2 separate regions of the Homo sapiens genome follow, and region 1 is linked to region 2. The links come from fine-mapping of genetic effects on gene expression. A gene starts in region 2. The other region holds a variant in brackets. All regions are shown on one strand. Distances are from middle to middle.

Evidence for each region.
Region 1: its variant is fine-mapped to the expression of PDCD6 in cerebellum (GTEx, PIP above 0.99). The same link has a PIP of 0.9 or more in aorta, esophagus muscle, fibroblasts and thyroid.

The regions. Positions count from the first base shown.
Region 1 is chr5:309,848-312,862 of GRCh38, forward strand. PDCD6 (programmed cell death 6) reads left to right here. Exons shown (of 6, transcript NM_013232.4): 5 at 1,446-1,555. All of the region lies in intron 3 of PDCD6-AHRR (PDCD6-AHRR readthrough (NMD candidate)), which reads left to right. Among named protein-coding and RNA genes, the nearest start is that of AHRR, 10 kb to the right of the region's middle. The variant T/C (reference allele first, on the strand shown) is at 1,516.
Region 2 is chr5:270,213-272,942 of GRCh38, forward strand. It overlaps PDCD6 (programmed cell death 6), which reads left to right and starts at 1,434. Exons shown (of 6, transcript NM_013232.4): 1 at 1,434-1,609; 2 at 2,499-2,560. The coding sequence starts at 1,509. It overlaps PDCD6-DT (PDCD6 divergent transcript), which reads right to left and starts at 1,312. Exons shown (of 2, transcript NR_104613.1): 1 at 1,133-1,312. PDCD6-AHRR (PDCD6-AHRR readthrough (NMD candidate)) reads left to right here and starts at 1,434. Exons shown (of 13, transcript NR_165163.2): 1 at 1,434-1,609; 2 at 2,499-2,560. RefSeq lists enhancers at 1-475, 1,137-1,226 and a silencer at 1,517-1,726.

The sequences.
Region 1 (3,015 bases), 40 kb after region 2:
TCCCCGTGCACCCCAGTGATGGCCGCCGTCCCCGTGCACCCCAGTGATGGCCGCCGTCCCCGTGCACCCCAGTGATGGCCGCCGTCCCCGTGCACCCCAGTGATGGCCGCCGTCCCCGTGCACACCAGTGATGGCCGCCGTGCCCGTGCACCCCAGTGATGGCCGCCGTCCCCGTGCACACCAGTGATGGCCTCTGTCCCCCATGCACTCCCAGACAGGCAATGTCCCTGTGGGCCTGTCCCAGGCTCTGTTCTCAGCAGGCTGGGCTCAGCCCTGGTGCAGGGAGTGAGGAGGTGGGAGTAGTAGGGACCAGAAAAAGTGGCAGCTGTTGACAACTCTGCCATCTCTTTCTGAATGTAATGGGAGGTCCTGTCTTTTCAGCTTGCAAGGAAGGAGGGTCCGAGGCAACTCCGCTGTTGCACATTTAGGGACCCCTGAACTTAAATGACAGAATGCCCTGACCACTCTGGAAGGCACTGTGTTCATGTTTGTGTGCTTGACTCTTGATCCGTAAAATGGCTGTTTGTGCAGGTCATTAACTGTGAGATTCAGAGAGTAGGTGCACACGTCCCTGCAGAGATTCCAGCAGGACTGAAAACCAGTAGAAATATATCAGCACCTGGATCTTGCCTCCTGAGTCAGTAAGGATATGCCACAGTCACGAAGGCAGTGGGATTTCGAGGGAGGGAAGGGAAGGCGGCAGGCGGGGCATGCCCTCCGGGGTGCCCGAACACACCTGCTGCATCCACATGTCTTCAGAGCCCTCTCCCTGTGGGAGGCCTTTTTCAGGACAGCCTTGGTGAACTGGAAACGGAATCCCAGCCCTTGGTGGCCCTGCAGTGACTTGGACCTTTCCGAGGTCACCCTGCCACTGCGTGCCCTTCAGTCCCTCCTGGCAGGTGGGGGCACATCCCCCAGCCACTCCCATTTCCTGACATTGTCACTTTGTATAACTGGAAGCCTTCTGTGAAATTTTAGTTTTCAAAGCATTATCTGGTGATGGGCAACCCAGGGCAGCGAATCATTCAGAATTTTCTTATCTAGGCTAATAAACATAATAAAATCAATAAGGACTTTGAAAGTAACTCCACTGGGTTCAGGAAACTGAGTGTGGCCGCCCTGTGGGGTGGTGTTTGGTGAGTGCTTCCCGGAGGTGAGTAGTTAATTCACAGGAGTGACTAATGGCAGCGTCCCACTCACTCCTCCTTCCGGGGTCATGGTCTCAAGGGGTCACTCCATGCACTGGGGATGTCAGCTCATTACAGAATGATATATTCGGGAAGTGTCTCAGTTCTGAGTGCCTTTGAGGGAATTTGCACTTCCGTTCCCACACAGCCTTGCATTGTGTGTGTTAGAGGCTGTGGGCCTTGGGCAGGAGGGGTGAGTGTTGGCACATACCTCCCGTCTCTCCCAGCCTTCTCTGACTCTGACTTTCCCTCTTGAAGGCTACCGGCTCTCTGACCAGTTCCACGACATCCTCATTCGAAAGTTTGACAGGCAGGGACGGGGGCAGAT[T/C]GCCTTCGACGACTTCATCCAGGGCTGCATCGTCCTGCAGGTGACGGAATGGCTTCACGTGGGTTTGTGGTGGTGGTGGGAGGGGCTTGCTTGCCAGCGTGATGCACCTGACCTTCAATCTAAGGAGCTGGGCATGTGTAGAATTAGTTTTTGGAGCTTATAAAAGTGAGTCTCATCTTTGGAGAAGTAGCCGGTTAGTGAAGTGTGGACAAACATGTTTTCCTCCCCTTGGAAATGGCACAGAGCAGCCCATCTGCAAGACGTGGTTTTTCAGTATCCGGTGGGTTATTTACATGTATGTTCTGGTGTTGTGGTTTTTTTTGTTTTTTGTTTTGTTTTGTTTTGTTTTGAGACCGAGTCTCGCTCTGTCACCCAGACGGGAGTGCAGTGGCACGATCCCGGCTCACTCCCACCTCTGCGTCCCGGGTTTAAGCAATTCTCCTGCCTCAGCCTCCCCAGTAGCTGGGATTACAGGTGACACCCAGCTAATTTTTGTATTTTTAGTAGAGACGGGATTTTGCCATGTTGGCCAGGCTGATCTCAAACTCCTGACCTCAAGTAATCCGCCCACCTTAGCCTCCCAAAGTGCTAGGATTACAGACATGAGCCACCATGCCTGGCCAACTATGGTGTATTTTTACAAAAACTTTTATTCTGAGAAAATGGGCACGTTTTCTGTTGTGGTCATCACTGTGTCCTGCCGTCTGTGTGTGAGGTCAGCTGTGGAGCCTGTGGTCGCTCAGGCCGCCCTCAGTGGGGTCTCCGAGCTCTTCCCGTGCACTCCAGTGTCTGCAGGAGCTGGTAATGCACCCTGACCTGCAAGGCAAGCTCCTTGGTGGTGTCTCTCCTGCTGGGCTCTCTTTGAGACCCACGGGAGATGGAGAGCAGGGCTCAGGGGACCCGCCTGGGAGCTCCACACAGACCTCTGCTGCTGTTTGCAGGTGGTGATCCAGGTCTCTACCCAGGTTCCTCAAGGTCCTGTCTTGTTGGCCTTGGAATTCAGTGAGAGATAGGAACAGCATGGGGTTTTTAGAAATAATGTGGAAATTTGGAAAACGTTCCCAAATTGTTTATTCTGTATAATAATTAAGATGCTAGATCTGTAAAAGTGAGTTTCCTCTGATTTGGCATGGATGCATCAGTCCCTGTTCTTCAGGGATTTGTTGGAGAACCAGGTCTGTGAACATGGAAGCTTCAAAACTCTACGGTTGGGGACCCTTTCCTGCCCCTGCCTCTCGGGGTTCCTGCCAGGTTGGATGACATTTTTACAATGTTCTCTGAACACTTTCAAAAAAGTGTAGGCTGGGCCTGGTGTCGCATGCCTGTAGTCCCAGCTACTCAGGAGGCTGAGGCAGGAGAATCACTTGAACCCGGGAGGTGGAGGTTTCAGTGAGCCGAGATCACACCACTGCACTCCAGCCTGGGTGACAGAGCCAGACCCTGTCTTAAAAAAGAAAGAAAAGAAAAAGGGAAAAGATGCCGTGTAAAATCTCGTTCTGT
Region 2 (2,730 bases):
AAGTATGAGGATGAAAAAAGTTAGCATTCATGGAATGAGGCACTGAAGAAACTGAAAAGCTGAAATAACCCCATGAAATAATGAGAATAATTGTAGTATTCTGAACCGGGGCACAGGACACAGGACCGGGGTGGAAGGCGGCACGAGACTACGCGCGTGGGAAAGACCCAGGGATCACAGTGGCCCAAAGCTGGGCACTTCCCAATTCCGGGATTTGTGCTACAGGCACTCCAGGCTCCACCTTAGAACTGTGTCCAGCACGAAGGCAGTGCTGTCTTGCGGGAGGCAGGGCTGCACCACCACCGGGGTGTGAAGGGGCCCAGCAGGCAGGGGTGTGAAGGGGCCCAGCAGTGTTTCCAGCTGCACGGGGTCAGGGGCCGCGCTGATGCAGAGCACGGGGGCGCAGGTTAAACCTAAAGGAGGGAAGCTTTTGGGGGCGGAACAGACAACCGAGAATGCTGCACACTGCCTTTCCCACCCGAATTGTGTTTTGACTTTTTTTTTTTTTTTTTTTTGAGACAGAGTTTTGCACTTGTTGCCCAGGCCTGGAGTGCAATGGCCCGATCTCGGATCACTGCAACCTCCTCCTCCCGGTTTCAAGCAATTCTCCTGCCTCAGCCTCCCGAGTAGCTGGGATTACAGGTGTGCACCATCACGCCCGGTTAGTTTTGTATTTTTAGTAGATACGGGGTGTCTCCCAATTGGCCAAGGCTGGTCTCGAACTCCCGACTTCAGGTAATCCACTGGCCTTGGCCTCCCAAAGTGCTGGGATTACAGGCGTGAGCCACCGCGCCCGGCCTGCTTTTGCTTTCTTTTTTTTTTTTTTTTTTTTGGCAGAGTCTCGCTGTCCACCCCTGTAGTGCAGTGAGCTCGGCTCCCTGCGGCCTTGACCTCCCGGGCTCAGGCAATCCTCCCGCCTCAGCCCACGGAGTAGATGGGACCACAGGAGCCCACCACGCCCGACTACTTTTTGTAATTTTTGTAGGGATGGGGTCTATCCATGCTGCCCAGGCTGGTCCGAACTGCTGGGCTCAAGAGCTCCGCCCGCCTCCGCCTCCCAAAGGGCAGGGATCACAGGTGTGAGCTACCGCGCCCCGCCCAGAGTTTCCGACTGTTAGCAAATCACATTCACCTCAAAACTATTTATACAAGAACTGAAAGGCAAACTAAGTCCGTGCTCCATCACTTCCTGTCCCAGGTCGCGGGGCCGGACATTTTCTCCAAGCGCTTTCCTGGCACAGCGCGCAGGCGGCCTGCGCCAAAGCTCTGGCTTCCTCCAGGCGCCCAGACCCCGCCCTCCCCGCAGGCGCCAGGGCGTTGCCTGGCAACTTAGCTGCGAGGGGATTGGCTGCGCGGGACCCCGTGACCATCCCGGAGACCACGCATTTCCTGCGCCCCCGGAAGTGGTGATAATGCCAGGCCCTGCCCCCGGCAGAGGCGGAAGCGGAGTCGGCCTGAGAGGTCTCTCGTCGCTGCAGGCGCCTCAGCCCAGCCGCGTGCCTTGGCCCATGGCCGCCTACTCTTACCGCCCCGGCCCTGGGGCCGGCCCTGGGCCTGCTGCAGGCGCGGCGCTGCCGGACCAGAGCTTCCTGTGGAACGTTTTCCAGAGGTGCGGCCTGGCACCGCCCGGGCACCTCCCGCCTCCGCCGCGGCGGCCCCGACCCCTGTCCCGACTCCCCCGACCAACCCCGTTCCCTGCCGGTTCTACTGCGGCCTCCTCCGTCCCCTGTCGGGTCCCCCGCGGCCCCCTCCCGTCCCCTGCCGCCGCCCCCGACCCCTGCCCCAGCCGACGCGGCCGCCCCCGTCCCCTGGCGGGTCCCCCGCGGTCTCCCCCGTCCGCTGCCCGGTCTCCTGGGGCCGCCCCTGCCTCCTGCCCGGTCCCTGTCCTGTGCGTCGGGCCCTTCCCAAGATGCAGAGTGCGCCACTGCAGACCCGAGGTCGCGGCCACCGGCTCCTGGGCTAGGCCCTTTTTCTCGCCTCAAGAGCCGCCAGGTGGAGGGTCTCCAGGGTGCTTGTTTGGGGAAAGCGGAAACAGACTGCCTGGGCGCTGTTAAAATGTCAGCAGCCAAGGAAGAAGCAGCGACCTGGCGTCTGCTCGGGCCAGGTGACCTTTATGGCGGCGCCTTCTGTCCCTGGTCGCTTTTCCACCGAATGTCCGAAACTGTAGTGACTGATGGCCAGGGAATGGCTTAGTTATCTGAGGGAATCTTGTCTTGTCTGTGAAAAAGGGAAACGGGTGCAAATGGGAATTCAGACAGGCCAGGAGAGGAAGGAAGGGAAGGATTGAGGTGAAGATGATTGTCCTCTTAGGGGAAGACCACACTGGACGTCGGCTCCTGGGGCACTTCCTTGATTCCGCTGTACTCCTCAGCGGGACGGGAGAGGCGGAGGTTCCAGGAGGGAGCCTTCCAGAGTCGGTGCAGGGTTGACAGAAGACGTTTGTTTTGCTTTTCCTGAACTTTCGATCGCCAGCTTATTTGGTCTTCTTGATGTTATAGGGTCGATAAAGACAGGAGTGGAGTGATATCAGACACCGAGCTTCAGCAAGCTCTCTCCAACGGTGAGTGGGCCAGTGGGAACTGGGTCTCCGGACCAAGAAGCCGCGAGCCTGCCCTGTTCACAGTGGATAACTTTCTGAAGTTGTTTTTCCAAGGACAAAGGAATCATTAGGACAAATTGTTATTACTGCTTCGTAGTGGAGATGCTTCTGGTTTATTTTGTGGCTACCGC